Linked DNA regions of Homo sapiens: region 2 is linked to region 1. Evidence: fine-mapped QTL for protein levels in blood plasma. A gene starts in region 1. The other region holds a variant in brackets. All regions are shown on one strand. Distances are between the middles of the regions.

What was found. A credible set is the group of variants that fine-mapping cannot tell apart. PIP is the posterior inclusion probability: the model's chance that the variant is causal. Protein levels are from antibody-based Olink assays in UK Biobank. Linkage for the fine-mapping came from a reference panel and not from the study's own genotypes, which makes the PIPs less certain.
Region 2: its variant is the best candidate, but not a certain one, in a credible set for the plasma level of the ENO2 protein (UK Biobank, PIP 0.82).

The regions. Positions count from the first base shown.
Region 1 is chr12:6,912,502-6,922,189 of GRCh38, forward strand. It overlaps ENO2 (enolase 2), which reads left to right and starts at 2,079. Exons shown (of 12, transcript NM_001975.3): 1 at 2,079-2,158; 2 at 3,320-3,416; 3 at 3,916-4,011; 4 at 4,170-4,228; 5 at 4,537-4,606; 6 at 5,080-5,213; 7 at 5,439-5,661; 8 at 7,065-7,262; 9 at 9,080-9,281; 10 at 9,555-9,663. The coding sequence starts at 3,332. LRRC23 (leucine rich repeat containing 23) reads left to right here. Exons shown (of 8, transcript NM_001135217.2): 7 at 229-526; 8 at 1,390-1,728. The coding sequence ends at 502. RefSeq lists enhancers at 1,482-1,551, 1,582-1,751, 2,430-3,071, 3,072-3,711 and silencers at 1,862-2,351, 1,883-2,073.
Region 2 is chr12:6,873,444-6,881,665 of GRCh38, forward strand. It overlaps LOC105369632 (a long non-coding RNA gene), which reads right to left. Exons shown (of 4, transcript NR_135083.1): 3 at 4,056-4,157; 4 at 2,321-2,471. Among named protein-coding and RNA genes, the nearest start is that of SPSB2, 4.3 kb to the left of the region's middle. RefSeq lists a silencer at 1-269. The variant A/T (reference allele first, on the strand shown) is at 2,297.

The DNA.
Region 1 (9,688 bases):
TATTACAGAGTAGAATATGGCACTTAGGGATTCCTTGAAGGGCAGAAGCAGGACCAGAGCGGGGTCACACAGCACCTCTGCAGTAAATCTGGCAAGGCTTGGCAGGCCAGTCCTCACAGTGTTTCTAGGGACACTGGAACCCCGAGAGTCCCCCAGAGGCCCCATTCCTAGCAACTGGCAACCAAAGCCCATTATTCCTGCATGAACCCCTCCTGACCACACTGGCAGGGGCAACATGGTGGCCAACCTGGGGGAGCTGGCCAAGCTTCGAGACCTGCCCAAGCTGCGAGCGTTGGTGCTGCTTGATAACCCATGCACGGACGAAACCAGCTACCGCCAGGAGGCCCTGGTGCAGATGCCATACCTTGAACGCCTGGACAAGGAATTCTATGAGGAGGAGGAACGGGCTGAGGCTGATGTGATTCGACAGAGGCTGAAGGAAGAAAAGGAGCAGGAGCCTGAGCCCCAGCGTGACCTGGAACCCGAACAGTCATTGATCTAGCAGCAGTTCTAGCCTCTAAAGATAGTAAGGAAGCCTGCAGGGAGGCAGTGGGAGGAGGCCAAGGGCTGGGCAGGTAGGGGAAGAGGCAAGAGGGGAAGCTGCTGCAGAAGGAGGTGGGAGAGGAAAGCATCAGACAAGCAGGACCCTTAAAGAGAGGAGGGTTAGGAGTCAGGGAGAGGAAAAGGGACCCAAGGGGCCTGGGACCAGCTGAGAAAGACTTAGGAGGCCAGAAGAGTAAGTGAAAAGAATTGGGGTGGCAGGCAGAGGAGTTGGTGGGGGGTGGGGCAGCCATACCTGACACAGAGTGAAGTCGGCTAGGAAAGGACAGGTGTGGGTGCATGGTAGGGGCTGCAGGGGAAAGTTGGTGGTGTATGCAGCTGGACCTAGGAGAGAAGCAGGAGAGGAAGATCCAGCACAAAAAATCTGAAGCTAAAAACAGGACACAGAGATGGGGGAAGAAAAGAGGGCAGAGTGAGGCAAAAAGAGACTGAAGAGATGAGGGTGGCCGCCAGGCACTTTAGATAGGGGAGAGGCTTTATTTACCTCTGTTTGTTTTTTTTTTTTTTTTTTTTTTTTTTTTGCGAGGTAGTCTTGCTTAGTCTCCAGGCTGGAGTGCAGTGGCACAATCTCAGCTCACTGCAACTTCCACCTCCTGGGTTCAAGCAATTCTCCTGCCTCAGCCTCCCGAGTAGCTGGGACTACAGGCGCATGCAACCGCGCCTGGCTAATTTTTGTATTTTTAGTAGAAACGGGGTTTCACCACGTTAGCCAGGATGGTCTGGATCTCCTGACCTCGTGATCTGCCCGCCTCCGCCTTCCAAAGTGCTGGGATTACAGGGGTGAGCCACAGCGCCTGGTCCCTATTTACTTCTGTCTTCTACCTCCAGGAGATCAAAGACGCTGGCCTTCAGACCTGATCAGACTCCCAGGGGCAGCCACCACATGTATGACAGAGAACAGAGGATGCCTGTTTTTGCCCCAAAGCTGGAAATTCATCACAACCTGAGGCCCAGGATCTGCTCTGTGCCGGTCCTCTGGGCAGTGTGGGGTGCAGAATGGGGTGCCTAGGCCTGAGCGTTGCCTGGAGCCTAGGCCGGGGGCCGCCCTCGGGCAGGCGTGGGTGAGAGCCAAGACCGCGTGGGCCGCGGGGTGCTGGTAGGAGTGGTTGGAGAGACTTGCGAAGGCGGCTGGGGTGTTCGGATTTCCAATAAAGAAACAGAGTGATGCTCCTGTGTCTGACCGGGTTTGTGAGACATTGAGGCTGTCTTGGGCTTCACTGGCAGTGTGGGCCTTCGTACCCGGGCTACAGGGGTGCGGCTCTGCCTGTTACTGTCGAGTGGGTCGGGCCGTGGGTATGAGCGCTTGTGTGCGCTGGGGCCAGGTCGTGGGTGCCCCCACCCTTCCCCCATCCTCCTCCCTTCCCCACTCCACCCTCGTCGGTCCCCCACCCGCGCTCGTACGTGCGCCTCCGCCGGCAGCTCCTGACTCATCGGGGGCTCCGGGTCACATGCGCCCGCGCGGCCCTATAGGCGCCTCCTCCGCCCGCCGCCCGGGAGCCGCAGCCGCCGCCGCCACTGCCACTCCCGCTCTCTCAGCGCCGCCGTCGCCACCGCCACCGCCACCGCCACTACCACCGTCTGAGTCTGCAGTCCCGAGGTGAAGCCCCCGCCAGGCCCAGAGCCCCTGTGGCCCCCTCCCTTCGCCGCGGCGCCCCTGCCTCCTTTACCCGGTGCCGCTGCGCACCTCTCCGCATCTCTGGCCCGGTGCAGCTGCGCACCTGCTCCGCCGCCCGCGCCCAGGGCGCCTTCCCTCCCTGGCCTTCCCCGCCCGCTGCCTTCGCTTTCTGGCCCTCTGCGCGCCTATCTCTAACTGCGCCTCTCCACCCTTGCCTGCCTCTCTCCCGGTGCTCGCCCTCATCTACGGTTCTATTTGTTTCTAAGTTGGGAGCCTCTCCGGGCGGTGCATTTTTATCCTAGAGCGTCCCTTTTGGTTTGCATTTGGGGAAATGTCTTCTCTCACCGTTCCTCACCTCCCCCAGACTTCCCTTGGACTCCCCTCTCTCCTGCTCTTCCCCACGGCGCCCCTCTCCGTTCGCGCTTCCTCCCCTCTGCTGCACGGGGGAGAGATGGAAGAAGTGGGGATCTGTCGAGGCGCAGAGGGGAGGACAGGCCCAGCTCGCCTCCACTCCCCACCGGCTCTTATCCTCTTCACTTCCCGCTGCAACCCCCAGGGACTGCAGGGCCTTTCTCAGGACCCTCTTCCCCGACACCTGTATTGCATGCGCCTTTCGCGGGAAGAGGAGGGATACACGTTTGGGAGAGAGTGGGACCTTGGGGAAGGGGCAGTGTTCAGGCAGCTGGGGTGTTAAGTTGGGGAGGTATGGGGGCTCTGGAAGAGAGGCCCAGGCAGCCCATCCTCTTCTTGGCTCCCAGGAGAAATGCAAGCCTGGCAGCCATTCCGCTCTGAGGAGATCTGGGGGAACCCCACCGGCTGGCCAAGCTGCAAAGAGGCGCGGGAACCACTGTCGTGCCCCTCCCCTCCTCACTGCAGTGTTCTCCCATCTCATCATTTGATCTTACCCCGCCCCCCACTGCAGTGACCTCCCCTTCCTCACTGCATTGACCTTCTCCTCTTCCCAGGGGGGAGGGGGAATCCCTTCTACAGCCCTAGACTGCAGCCAGCGCCTCCCTACCCACCCCCCACCCACTGCAGTAACCTCTTTCCCATCCCTCCCAGCCTCCCGCCCCGCCCATTGATCTCAGGCTCCACCCCTCTAAGCCTCTTATCTTTCTCCTTCCTTCCCTTCCACCCGAGGAGATCCCAGCCATCATGTCCATAGAGAAGATCTGGGCCCGGGAGATCCTGGACTCCCGCGGGAACCCCACAGTGGAGGTGGATCTCTATACTGCCAAAGGTAATGGGTGTGGCATGGGCCTTCCTACAGCCCTAGCTTTTCCACGGCCAGGCTGGGTTCGGCCAGGGGTTCGGAGGCCTTTTTTGATACCCAGGGGTATGGGGTGCTGGGCCAGGCTCACAAGCCTGGGTTGTGGCGGTTGGATCCTCCTTGTCCGGGGAGCCAGGGTAGGTGGGTCTGTGTTCGAGTTTAGCGTGTGAGGCATGTCCTGCCTCCGTGTGTCTGCCTGTGCACTTGCATGTGTGCAGACGTGTGCTGCAAGCAATTTTCTTTCTGCGGGCTCCCACTTGTGCATGTGGGGCCTCAGATGGGTGGATGAGGAGGCCACTTCTTGTGCATCTGCCTCAGTGTGTGTGTGGGGTGGGGGTGGGGGGATGTTAGGGAGCAGTGTGGGGAGAGAGCTAGATGTGGTAGGCAGGCAGTTTAGAGCCAGAAGGCTGAAGGACTCCCTGGCCCCTGTGTCCTCTTCACTCCCTCTCATTCCATGTTCCTCCTTTAGGTCTTTTCCGGGCTGCAGTGCCCAGTGGAGCCTCTACGGGCATCTATGAGGCCCTGGAGCTGAGGGATGGAGACAAACAGCGTTACTTAGGCAAAGGTGAGGTCCCTTCTCTTTTCCAGACTCTCCCCCACCTCAGCCTTATGCCCCTACCTCACACCAGTCCCCAGTCCTCCTCTAGCATGGCTTCCCCTCCTCCCATTGATCCCTTCCGGCCCCTCCTGGCCCGACCCAGTCCAGCCTCTTCCTTTCCCCAGGTGTCCTGAAGGCAGTGGACCACATCAACTCCACCATCGCGCCAGCCCTCATCAGCTCAGTGAGGCCTGCTCTTTGCTGGGGATAGCAGGGCCAGAGTTCTGGAAGGAATCCCGGAGCAGGGCAGGAGGAAGGGAAGAAAGAAGGCCCACTCTTAGGAATCATGGTTACAAGGGGGAAGGGTGGGGAACAGCTTCCTTAATGCACCCTGCTCCCATGGGAGTTCAGGTCCCCTAATCCAGGTAGGCCCCTGTCACAGGGACCTGGTTGGACCCTGGCCAAATGTGAGCTTGGGTGTGAATGAGGGGACCCTCTGCCTTAGGGCTCAGCCTCCAGCCTGGCCCTGGGTGATGGAGGCTCTGCCCTCAGGGTCTCTCTGTGGTGGAGCAAGAGAAACTGGACAACCTGATGCTGGAGTTGGATGGGACTGAGAACAAATGTGAGCCGGGGCCGGGAGAAAGTGGGGAAGCGTCAGGGTGGGGAGGCGTGGAGCAGATAGAGAGCTGAAGGGCCAGTGCTGTAGTGGCTTCCTCAGGAATGACTGTCAGGGGCATTCTCCTCTCAAAGCCAGAGCAAGGGGAGATGAGTTTAGCTGCAGAGGGAAGGACCGACAGTAGGCAGAAGGAAGACCTTCTTTGCAGCATACAGAGGAGGGGGATGGCCTGAGAGAGTCTGTGGTCTCAGGGATATTTAGAAAGAGGTGTGGCTCTCTGCCGTTTCCAATCTCCTCCTCCCCACCCATTCCTCTCCCTGCTGTTTTCAAGAGAGCATGGATGAGGTGTTGCTGGGGCAGGGGTGGGGAGGGAGGAGGGGGTCTCCTTTACTGGCTCCTTTTGGAGACTACAGATGGAGGCAGGAGCTAGAAAGGAGAAGGGGACATTGTGCTCAGCACCTTCCTCTATAATCTCCTAGCCAAGTTTGGGGCCAATGCCATCCTGGGTGTGTCTCTGGCCGTGTGTAAGGCAGGGGCAGCTGAGCGGGAACTGCCCCTGTATCGCCACATTGCTCAGCTGGCCGGGAACTCAGACCTCATCCTGCCTGTGCCGGTGAGCAATAAGCCAGCCTGCGGCTCTCCCAGGGGCGGGTGGGGGAGGGAGCATGCAACTCATGAGGAATGATGGGAGGAAAGTGAATTGAGGGAGGTAAAGAGGAAGGATGGGGACGTGAGACTTAGTCCGGAAAGCTGGGGGAAGTTTGGGATCTTGGGTTAACACTCCTGGGGCGGGCAGGGAGGGGCTCTTTGACCCTTCTGTCTTTCTGTGGCTCCCCAGGCCTTCAACGTGATCAATGGTGGCTCTCATGCTGGCAACAAGCTGGCCATGCAGGAGTTCATGATCCTCCCAGTGGGAGCTGAGAGCTTTCGGGATGCCATGCGACTAGGTGCAGAGGTCTACCATACACTCAAGGGAGTCATCAAGGACAAATACGGCAAGGATGCCACCAATGTGGGGGATGAAGGTGGCTTTGCCCCCAATATCCTGGAGAACAGTGAAGGTGAGGCCAGGAGCCCCACTCCCAGCTCTAAGTCTTACCCTATTGTGGGACATCAGAAAGGGTGACACAGTTCACCAAGTCCTGAGTAGGCGTGGAGGGTCCTAGGACTCTGCAAACTCCAAAAGGTACCAGTTCTTAGAGTGGATTGCAGAGAGCCTGCCAAATTCACATGCAGACCTAGGGGGACAGTATTTTTTTTTTTTTTTGAGACGGAGTCTTGCTCTGTCACCCAGGCTGGAGTGCAGTGGCTCGATCTCAGCTCACTGCAAGCTCCGCCTCCCGGGTTCACGCCATTCTCCTGCCTCAGCCTCCCGAGTAGCTGGGACTACAGGCGCCCGCCACCACGCCCGGCTAATTTTTTGTATTTTTTAGTAGAGACAGGGTTTCACTGTGGTCTCGAACTCCTGACCTTGTGATCGGCCCGCCTCGGCCTCCCAAAGTGCTGGGATTACAAGCGTGAGCCACCACGCCTGGCCAGGGGACAGTCTTTTACCTGCCTAGCCAGATGTGTTAGCATCTGTTAAGTTGCCACTGGAAGGCCGGGCGCGGTGGCTCACACCTGTAATCCCAGCACTTTGGGAGGCTGAGGCGGGTGGATCACCTGAGGTCAGGAGTTTGAGACCAGCCTGGCCAACAAGGTGAAACCCCGTCTCTACTAAAAATACAAAAATTAGCCGGGCATGGTGGCGTGTGCCTGTAATCACAGATACTAGCGGGGCTGAGGCAGGAGGATCGCTTGTACCCGGGAGGCGGAGGTTGTGGTGAGCCGAGATCATGCCACTGCACTCCAGCCTGGGCAACAGAGCGAGACTCCGTCTCAAAAAAAAAAAAAAAAAAAAAAGTTGTCACTGGAGCCCTTGGGAATACTGGGAGATGGTCTGGATGACTGTTGGATTCATCCCATCCATTCGAAATCTGTCCTGTCCCCGTCCCAACCTCCTAGGCCTCTAGAATCCCTAATTTTTCTGTGCCTTGGGGGAAACTGTATAGGGAATGGAAAGAATATAGGTAGTGGTTAAGAGTTAAGGTTCTGGGGCCAAATAACCTGGATTTATTTGAACCTTGACTTGTGGAGTTACTGCTGGTGAACTTTCTTACTTCTCTCTGGAAATAATAACAGAATCTAGCTCATGGTAGTGTGAGGCTTAAATGAAATATATATAAAATGCTTAGATGACATGATACCAATGAAAGTATAGTAAGTATTATTAAGAGAATTCCATTCCTCTGTGTTCCTAGAAGATGGCCTCTCCTCCCAGACCTGGGGATAACCCCAACAGCATCCCCGCCACACTTCCCTCAGGAACAGCCCTCCACCTCTGCCCTGAATGTCTTTTCTTTCCCTCCTCCTCCTTGCCCATCCCTCCTGCTTGTACTATAATCTCACTGTATTCTGTCCCCAGCCTTGGAGCTGGTGAAGGAAGCCATCGACAAGGCTGGCTACACGGAAAAGATCGTTATTGGCATGGATGTTGCTGCCTCAGAGTTTTATCGTGATGGCAAATATGACTTGGACTTCAAGTCTCCCACTGATCCTTCCCGATACATCACTGGGGACCAGCTGGGGGCACTCTACCAGGACTTTGTCAGGGACTATCCTGGTGAGAGGAAGTGGTGTGAGGGGGAGGTCTGGGGGCAGGCAGGGACGTGTCCCAGCAACTCTGGACCTTATGGGGTGCTGACTCAGGCACCAGGTGGGGGTGTCCTAAGAAGAACCTGAGAACCAGGGAGAGGGTGCAGGAGCCACCTGCAAAGACTGGGCTTTGTATGTAGTGTAAAAATGCAGGTACCCGTGACCAATCTGTTCTGTCTCAGATCCTGATTAAAGTCATGGGTTCTGAAAACTACTGGGGTCATGGGGAAGGCTCTGGAAGGAACCAGGGATGATATGAGTGTGACTGGATCTAGCAGAGAACTAGAACATTTCAGTATCTTTGATTGATGAAATTGTGGATGCTGAATGGAGCTGGGACTGATGTGTGAGTAGAAAGAAGGCTGAGGGGGACTGAATTAGCTTCTGCAAGTCTGCCCAGGGCCTTTATCTCAGGATGGAGGCAGTTGGTCGCCATCTTCCTGACACAGAGCGAAAGAAAATCAACATAATTGCAGAATTAAGGATTTGGATTAGCAATGAGGAAGGGCTTGCTGGCAGTGAGAACAGGAAAATGCAAAGCTAGGTTGTGAACCCTTGTTACTGGAAGATTTTTTTTGGGGGGGGGGTGGGGTTGTTTTTTTTGTTTTGTTTTTTTTTTTTGAGACAGAGTTTGACTCTTCTTGCCCAGGCTGGAGTGCAATGGCGCCATCTCGGCTCACCACAACCTCCACCTCCCGGATTCAAGCGATTCTTCTGCCTCAGCCTCCCGAATAGCTGGGATTACAGGCATGTGCCACCATGCCTGGCTAATTTTGTATTTTTAGTAGAGACAGGGGTTTCTCCATGTTGGTCAGGCTGGTCTCCAACTCCTGACCTCAGGTAATCTATCCACCTTGGTCTCCCAAAGTGCTGGGATTACAGGCGTGAGCCACCACGCCTGGCTGGTTTGCTTTTAATTAACTTTTTTTTTTTTTTTTTTTTTTTGTAGAGACAGGGTTTAGCCATGTTGCTCATGGCTGGTCTCAAACTACTGGGCTCAAGTGATCTGCATGCCTCGGCCTCCCAAAGTGCTGGGATTACAGGCATGAGCCACTGTGCCCAGCCTATGGAAGTGGCGTGAGATCTCTGCTCACTGCACGATTCTCTTAGCCTCCCAAGTAGCTGGGATTACAGGCGTGCACCACCATGCCTGGCTAATTTTTGTATTTTTAGTAGAGATGGGGTTTTACTATGTTAGCCAGGGAACTCCTATCCTCAAGTGATCCGTTCACCTCAGTATCCCAAAGTGCTGGGATTACAGGCATGAGCCACTGTGCCTGGCCTCTCCATGTAAGGTTTTATGAAATAAGAATCAGGAGCCAGGCGTGGTGGCTCATGCCTGTAATCCCATTACTTTGGGAAGCCGAGGCAGGAGGACTGCTTGAATCCAGGAGTTCGAGACTGGCCTGGCAATACAGTGAGACCTCATCTCTACAAAAATTTTAAAAATTAGCTGAGTGTGGTGCCACACACCTAAAGTCCCTGCTACTCAGGAGGCTGAGGTGGCAGGATCACTTGATTGGGGAGGTGGAGGTTGCAGTGAGCTGAGATTGTGCCACTGCACTCCAGCCTGGATGACAGAATGAGGCTCTGTCAAAAAAAAAAAAAAAGTTAAGAATCAGTTAGGGCAGGCTTACACTGGGGGGATTTGTCTTAGCAAGGATGAGCAGGTGTAGTTAACCAAGGGCCTGTCCATTTCAGGGAATAAAGGGGCATGTTCCTGCCTGATGTAGAGACCCAGGGAAGATGAACACCTCCCCCCTCCCCACCATGCTCTCTCTGCAGTGGTCTCCATTGAGGACCCATTTGACCAGGATGATTGGGCTGCCTGGTCCAAGTTCACAGCCAATGTAGGGATCCAGATTGTGGGTGATGACCTGACAGTGACCAACCCAAAACGTATTGAGCGGGCAGTGGAAGAAAAGGCCTGCAACTGTCTGCTGCTCAAGGTCAACCAGATCGGCTCGGTCACTGAAGCCATCCAAGCGTGAGTGACTTCTGGCCCTCTCCTGTGTGGTCCTCGTTTCTATAAGACTCCTTTTGCAAGTGCTCCAGCCTAATTCTACCCAGGGGTGCCAAAGAGAGCGGGGAACCTGGAATCATCCTCACAGTTCTCTCACCTCTGCCCCTCCACCCCTGATTCTCTGCTCCCCTCCCAGATAGCTTTCCCCTAGATGTTTCCTGACATAGACCAAGGTTGGGGCTGGGAAGAGAGTGCCCAGTGTGAGAGCTGGAGAATCAGTGCTGTGTGTGGATACAGGTGCAAGCTGGCCCAGGAGAATGGCTGGGGGGTCATGGTGAGTCATCGCTCAGGAGAGACTGAGGACACATTCATTGCTGACCTGGTGGTGGGGCTGTGCACAGGCCAGGTGAGTGAGGCAGCCTGGTGAGTGA
Region 2 (8,222 bases), 40 kb before region 1:
CGAGGCCACGCCCCTGTGGGGCCCCGCCCCCTCCTGGGCAGTTACCGCTCTATACCGGCAGCAGCCGCGGAGAGCATGCCCCGCCCCCGTGGAGCCCACCCCGGGCGGTTAACCTCGGGTCTCAGTCCCGGGCTGTGACCCTCCCCGAGGCCCCGCCCCCACGGCGAAGGCCCGGGGCAGTTAACCCTTCTCTTGCTGCGGCAGAGTCCGCACCCGGGCAGGCCCATCTCAGAATTAACGCTTTGATGGCATCACCGCGTCGGGAATCCCTGGGGATGGTGTTCTCCACCGTCAAGACCTTTGAGCCGCCTGAGCGACTAACTCCTGCGCCCCTGAGGGTAAGGAGCATGGGGTCAAGGAGGGGCTTCATTGTGCCGAATCCCATTTCTACTTCCCTGTGATTCTGGGTCACTGTTTCTGGGCTGGTCCCTTTCTGCCCCGGGTTGTGAGTCAGCCTGTGCCACCTCTGAGGCTGTGAAATCTGCTTCAGGCTCTAGGCTGTACGCATCATAGTTCTCCCTGCTGGTCCAGTCTTCATACTGGATGCCAATCCATTACTGAGCCGTTGATCTCATTTGGTAGAGTGTCCTGATTAAGACTTCGAGTTTGAGTGAAGCTATGCCACTAGTTAACTGCGCGATCTTGGGGAAGTTGCCCGATTTCTCTTTTTTTTTTTTTTGAGACAGGGTCTTGCTGTCACCAAGGCTAGAGTGCAGTGGCGCCATCACAGCCCACTGCAGCCTTGACCTCCTGGGCTCAAGTGATCCTCCTACCTCAGCCTCCCAAGTAGCTGGGACTACAGGCATGTGCTACCACACCCAGCTAATTTTTAAAAAAATATTTTTATTTTTATTTTTATTTTTTTCGAGACAGAGTCTTGCTCTTGTTGCCCAGGCTGGAGTGCAGCGGCACGATCTCGGCTCTCTGTAACCTCCATCTCCCAGGTTCAGGGGATTCTCCTGCCTCAGCCTCCTGAGTAGCTGGGATTACAGGCACCTGCCACCACGCCTAGCTATTTTTTGTATTTTTAGTAGACACAGGGTTTTGCCATGTTGGCCAGGCTGGTCTAGAACTCCTGACCTTGTGATCTGCCTGCCTTAGCCTCCCAAAGTGCTGAGATTACAGGTGTGAGCCACCACGTCCGGCCAAAAAAAAATTTTTTTTAGAGACAGGGTCTCCCAAAGTGCTGGGATTTCAGGCATGAGCCACTACGCCCAGCCCCAGATTTCTGTAGTTTTCTGTTATGTAAAATAGGAGCAATGATGGTAGTTACCTCACAGGGTTGTTGTGCAGTTGAAATAATCCAGGTAAAGCATGTAGCACAGAGCTGGGTACATAGTAGTCACTCACCAAGCATAGCTGTCAATGTGCTTAATGAGTGCCGACACTATAAGGAGGCAATATAATATAATGGCAAACATGCCAGCTGTGGGACCAGACTCCCCGGGCATGAATACCTGAAGGCCAGTGTGTGTATGACCTTGGGCAAATTACTGAACCTCCCTGTGCCTGTTTCTTCCTCTGTAAGACAGAGATCACATTAGTATCTATTGCATGGGGTTGGTAGTGAGAATCCAATGAGGTTATAGATGTAACACATTTGGAAGAGTTTCTGGTTCGCATTTAATGATTTGTGCTAAGCACTGGAGATTAAGCAGTGAATCCTTAAGGAGGTTACAAAGACTTTTATAAAATAATGTATCATGTAGTAATAGTAAATAAAATTATGGAGATATAAAGAAAGTACTATAGGAGTAAAAAGAATAGGACTCCTATCCGGGGTTCAAGCAGTTAGGAAAGGAGCATCTCCAAAAGAGGTTCACACCTGGGCTGAATCTTTTCATGTCCTAGAAGAGGTTCACACCTTCACACTGGGCTGAATCTTTCTCTTTTTTTTTTTGAGACGGAGTCTAAGCTCTGATGCCTAGGCTGGAGTGCAGTGGCGTGATCTCAGCTCACCTCTGCCTCCTGGGGTCAAGTGATTCTCCTGCCTCAGCCTCCCAAGTAGCTGGGACTACAAGCGTGCACCACCATGCCTGGCTAATTTTTGTATTTTTAGTAGAGACAGGGTTTCACTATGTTGCCCAGGCTGGCCTCGAACTCCTGACCTCGTGATCTGCCCGCCTCGGCCTCCCAAAGTGCTGGGGTTACCGGCATGAGCCACCGCGCCCAGCCTGGGCTGAATCTAAAAGGATGACCAGGAATTGGCCTGAGACGAGCCACTTCTCTGCAGTATGGAGGTTGGGTTACGGTTGCTGCATGTAGAAGATATTCCAGACAGAAGAGTCCGCATGAA[A/T]AAAAGCAAGAAGCAGCAGGTGGGTTTGGGGAAGTACGATATCTTCAAGGTTGCTACAGCCAGAAAGGAAGCATGAGAAGGGCCAGATAAGTAGACAGCAAGTCACAGAGGCCTTCTAGGCTGAGTTAAGGAATGCAAATGTTTTCCCATAGGACAGGCCAGTGATGGGGAGCCACTGTAGGATAGAAGAAGAGAGGAACATGGTCAGATAGGCATTTGATTTATTTATATATTTTGAGCCAGGGTCTCACTTTGTCACCCAGGCTGGAGTGGAGTAGCGTGATCACGACTCATGGCAGCCACAACCTCCTGAGCTCCGCTGATCCTCCTACCTCAGCCTCCTGAGTAGCTGGGACTACAGGTGCATACCGCCATGCCGAGCTAATTTATTTTTATTTTTTTAATTTACAAATTATTATTTCTTAATTTTTAAAATAGAGACAGAGTCTCAGTCTGTTGCCCAGGCTGGTCTCGAACTCCTGAGTCAAGCGATCCTCCTGCCTCAGCATCCCAAAGTACTGGGATTACAGGCGTGAGCCACTGTGCCTGGCCAGATCTGCATTTTAGAAAAACCACCCTGGCAGCAACATAGAGGAGCTTCAAGGGAAATAGAACTGGAAGTTGGCTGGGCGCGATGGCTCACACCTGTAATCCCAGCACTTTGGAAGGCTGAGATGGGCGAATCACCTGAGGTTTGGAGTTCGAGACCAGCCTGGCCAACATGGAGAAACCCTGTCTCTACTAAAAATACAAAATTAGCCGGGCATGGTGGAGCATGCCTGTAATCCCAGCTACTCAGGAGGTTGAGGCAGGAGAATTGCTTGAACCTGGGAGGTGGAGGTTGCGGTGAGCCGAGATCACGCCATTGCACTCCAGCCTGGGCAACAAGAGTGAAACTCTGTCTCAAAAAAAAAAAAAAAAAAGGACTGGAAGCAAAGACACCATTTCCAGCAGCCCAGGTGACAAGTGTCAACAGCCTGAAATAGGACAGTAGAAATAAGGATGAAAATAATTCAAGAAACACTGATGAAACGGCAAGATTTGGTGACTGATTAGATATGGAGTTGAGGCTGGGCACAGTGGCTCACGCCTGTAATCCCAGCACTTTGGGAGGCCGAGGCAGGCGGATCACCTGAGGTTGGGAGTTTGAGACCAGCCTGGCCAACATGGTGAAACCCTGTCTCTACTAAAAATACAAAAATTAGCTGTGTGTGGTGGTGGGCACCTGTAATCCCAGCTACTTCGGAGGGTGAAGCAGGAGAATTGCTTGAACCAGGGAGGTGGAGGCTGCAGTGAGCCGAGATGGCGCTACCGCACTCCAGCCTGGGCGACAGAGCAAGACTCCATCTCAAAAAAAAAAAAAAAAAAAAAAGAGAAAGGGAAGTTTCTAGCCTGGAAAAATTGATTGGAAGGTGGTGCCACCAATCAAGATGGAGATGACAGAAAGAGGAGTAATTGAGGGCAGGGGCAGGAGGGTGGGAGAGGGAGATGGTGAGTTCAGTTTAGGATATGTTTTTGAGGTGTCTGAGCCACAAGCAAATGGAACCATCCAGAACACACAAGAAAATGGCAGGTCTGGAGGCAGAATGAGAGGCCTGGGCTGGAGACAGGGATTTGGGAGGTGTGTCAGTCTTTAGTCAGGAGTTGAACTATGAGAATGAGTGAGTGAAATATGGGCGATGGGGACAAAGAGAGTGTGGAGCAACAGAAGGGTCAAGGAGAATAGAACAAGGTAGAAAATTCAGTTTTGATTACTTACAAGATTGTTTTGGTCAGAGGTCACTGGCAACCTTGGTGAGAGACAGCACATGTGGGGACTGGTAGGTGGAACTCCAGGCTGAAGGGGCTGGACTGTCACAAGCTTTACATTTTGAAGGAATAGAAAATGAGGAGAAGTAAATTACAATTATGTCACATAGTTAAAGTTACCCTTGGAAATCCCTTAGTAGGCTGGGTGCAGTGGCTCATTCCTGTAATCCCACCACTTTGAGAGGCTGAAGCAGGAGCTTGAGCCCAGGAGTTTGAGACCAGCCTGGAAGACTAGTGAGACCCCATCTCTACCAAATAATAATAATAAAATAGGCCGGACGCGGTGGCTGACGCCTGTAATCCCAGCACTTTGGGAGGCCGAGGCGTGTGGATCACCTGAGGTCAGGAGTTCAAGACCAGCCTGGCCAACATGGTGAAATCCCGTCTCTACTAAATATACAAAAAAAAAAAAATTAGCCAGGCGTGGTGGTGTGCACCTGTAATCCCTCAGCAGGAGAATTGTTTGAACCCAGGAGGCGGAGGTTGCAGTGAGTCAGGATGGCGCCACTGCACTCCAACATGGGCGACAGAGTGATACTCCATCTCAGAAAACAAAACAAAAAAATAAAATAGGCTGGGCATGGTGGCTCATGCCTGTAATCTCAGCACTTTGGGAGGCCGAGGCAGGTGGATCACTTGAGGTCAGGAGTTCGAGACCAGCCTGGCCAACATGGTGAAACCCCGTCTCTACTAAAAATACAAAAATTAGCTGGGCGTGGTGGCATGTGCCTATAATCCCAGCTACGCAGGAGGCTGAGGAAGGAGAATCGTGCCTGTAATCCCAGCTACTCAGGAGGCTGAGGCAGAAGAACCCGCAAGGCAGAGGTTGCAGTGAGCCAAGATCCTGCCACTGCACTCCAGCCTGGCGACAGAGCAAGACTCCGTCTCAAAAAATAAAGTAAAATAAAATAAAAATAATTGAGGACCACAAGAACTAGGAAAAAAAGAAAAAAGAAAAAAGAAAGGCCGAGGCAGGCAGATCACCTGAGGTCGGGAGTTTGAGGCCAGCCTGACCAACATGGAGAAACCTCGTCTCTACTAAAAATACAAAAATCAGCTAGGCATGGTGGCACATGCCTGTAATCCCAGCTACTCGGGAGGCTGAGGCAGGAGAATCGCTTGAACCTGGGAGGCAGAGGTTGTGGTGAGCTGAGATTGAGCCATTGCACTCCAGCCTGGACAACAAGAGCGAAACTCCATCTCAAAAAAAAAAAAAAAAAGAAAAAGAAAATCCCTCAGTTACTGCATCTGTTAGGTGAGCATATATTCGTTTGTGTAAAAATCACTATGTGGCTGTATATATATATATATATATATATATATATATATATATATATATATATATATATATAAAATGATGTACAAAATATTTTATAATGTTTTAAAGAGGAAGAAGAAAGCAGCACACTAAGAAGTAACTCAGGAATGGAAAACCAAACATCATATGTTCTCATAAGTGGGAGCTAAGCCATGAGAATGCAGAGGCATAAGAATGACACAATGGACCTTGGGTACTCAGGGGGAAAGGGTGGGAAGAGGTGGAGGGATAAAAGACTATAAATAGCGTTCAGTGTATACTGCTTGGGTGATGGGTGCACCAAAATCTCACAAATCACCACGAAAGAACTTACTCATATAACCAAACACCACCTGTTCCCCAATAACCTATGAAAATAAAATAATAATAAAAAGAAGAAGAAAGCATACTAAAATAAAGATATGAACCTGAAACTTGTCATCCACCCAACCTGGATATGCTTGCCAGTATGTGACATCAATAATAACATCATGACTGTAAGACCAGGCACAGTGGCTCACACCTGTAATCCCAGCACTTTGGGAGGCCAAGGTGGGCCGATTTGAGATCAGAAGTTGAAGACCAGCCTGGGCAGCATGATGAAACCCCGCCTCTACAAAAAATACAAAAAATTAGCCAGGCTTTGGTGGCTTGCGCCTGCCATCCCAGCTACTCAAGAGGCTGAGGCAAGAGAATCCCTTGAGTCTAGAATTGGAGGTTGCGGTGAGCCAAGATCAGGCCACTGCACTCCAGCCTGGGTGACAGAGCGAGACCCCGTCTCAAAAAATAAATAACATCATGACTGTGGGTGGCAGCCTATGATGAATAGTAGTGAAGGACCCATGTGATAACCAAGGCCTGGGGACAGAGAACAGTGCCTGCCCCATGGCTAGCTCTAGCTCAGCTTGAGAATTTAATCACGCCTGTGCTGCTGATGCTGCTGCTGCTGCTGCTACTGGTTGTTTAAAACATGGTTGTTGGCCGGGCACAGTGGCTCACGCCTGTAATCCCACCACTTTGGGAGGCTGAGGCAGGCAGATCATCTGAGATAAGGAGTTCGAGACCAGCCTGGCCTACATGGTGAAACCCCGTCTCTACTAAAAAATACATAAAAATTAGCCAGGCCTACTGGCACGTGCCTGTAGTCCCAGCTACTCAGGAAGCCGAGGCAGAAGAACCACTTGAACCCAGGAGGCGGAGGTTGCAGTGAGCCGAGATTGCGCCACTGCACTCCAGTCTGGGCGACAGAGGGAGACTTTGTCTCAAAAAAAAAAAAAAAAGGTTGTTTTAAACAATTCATCAGTTGATGCCACTGAATCTGGAGCTGGTCAAACATTTGTTGCTAAAAGGTAAAAAATTTCGTAATGCTACAAGTAATTTAAATTTTTTACTTAAAAATTAAAAAAAAAAAAAAATTGGCCGGGCATGGTGGCTCACACCTGTAATCCCAGCACTTTGGGAGGCCGAGGCGGGTGGATCACAAGGTCAAGAGATCGAGACCATCCTGGCTTTAGTAGAGACAGTGAAACCCCGTCTCTACTAAAAATACAAAAAAAATTAGCCAGGCGTGGTGGTGGGCGCCTGTAGTCCCAGCTACTCGGGAGGCTGAGGCAAGAGAATGGCGTGAACCCTGGAGGCAGAGCTTGCAGTGAGCCAAGATCACGCCACTGCACTCCAGCCTGGGTGACAGAGCGACATTCCATCTCAAAAAAAAAAAAAAAATTATAGATGAGGTCTTGCTATTTTGCCCAGGCTGGACTCAAATTCCTGGGTTCAAGTAATCCCCCCAACCTCAGCCTCCCAAGTAGCTGAGACTACAGGCATGTGCCACAATGCCTTTTTACTTATTTTATTATTTTGTTGAGACAGGGTCTCAGTGTACTCCAGGCTGGAGTGCAGTGGCACGACCATGACTCACTGCAGCCTCACCCCAGCCTCCTGAGTAGCTAGGACTACAGGCACATGCCACCAGGCCTGGCTAATATTTAACTTTTCGTAGAGACAGGGACTCTCTCTATGTTGCCCAGGTTGATCTCAAACTCCTGTACTCAAGCAATTCTCCTGCCTCGTCCTCCCAAAGTGCTGGGATTACAGGCATGAGCCACCATGCCTGGCTGTTTTTAAATTTTTATATATATATATTTTGAGACAAGGTCTGGCTCTGTTGCCCAGGCTGGAGTGCAGTGCACGATCTCGGCTCACTGCAACCTCTGCCTTCTGGGTTCAAGCAACTTTCCCGCCTCAGCCTCTGGAGTAGCTGGGACAACAGGCGCCCCGCCAGCATGCCTGGATAATTTTTTTGTATGCTTTTATAAAGACAGGGTTTCACCATGTTGCCCAGGTTGGTCTCGAACTCCTGGGCTCAAGCAATCCACCCATCTTGGTCTCTCAAAATATTGTGATTACAGGGGTGAGCCACTGCGATCGGTCCTTTTAAAAAAAAAGTCCCCTCCCACCACTGCCGTTTTTACTTTTTGATTGAGATGTAGCATATATAAAGCACACTAATCTTAAATTGCCCAGTGAACTTTTACATACATATACACTTGGGTGACAACCACCAAAAAGATCAAGATAAAGAATCCAGCTGGCTGGGCACGGTGGCTCACACCTATAATCCCAGTACTTTGGGAGGCTAAGGCAGGGGATCACTTGAGCTCAAGAGTTCTGAGATGAGCCTGGGCAACATAGGGAGACCTCGTCTCTACTAAAAATTCAAAAAAGTTAGCTGGGTGTGGTGGTGCACGCCTCTAGTCCCAGTTACTCTGGTGGGCTGAGGTCGGAGGACTGCTTGAGGCTGCAGTGAGCCCTGACCATGCC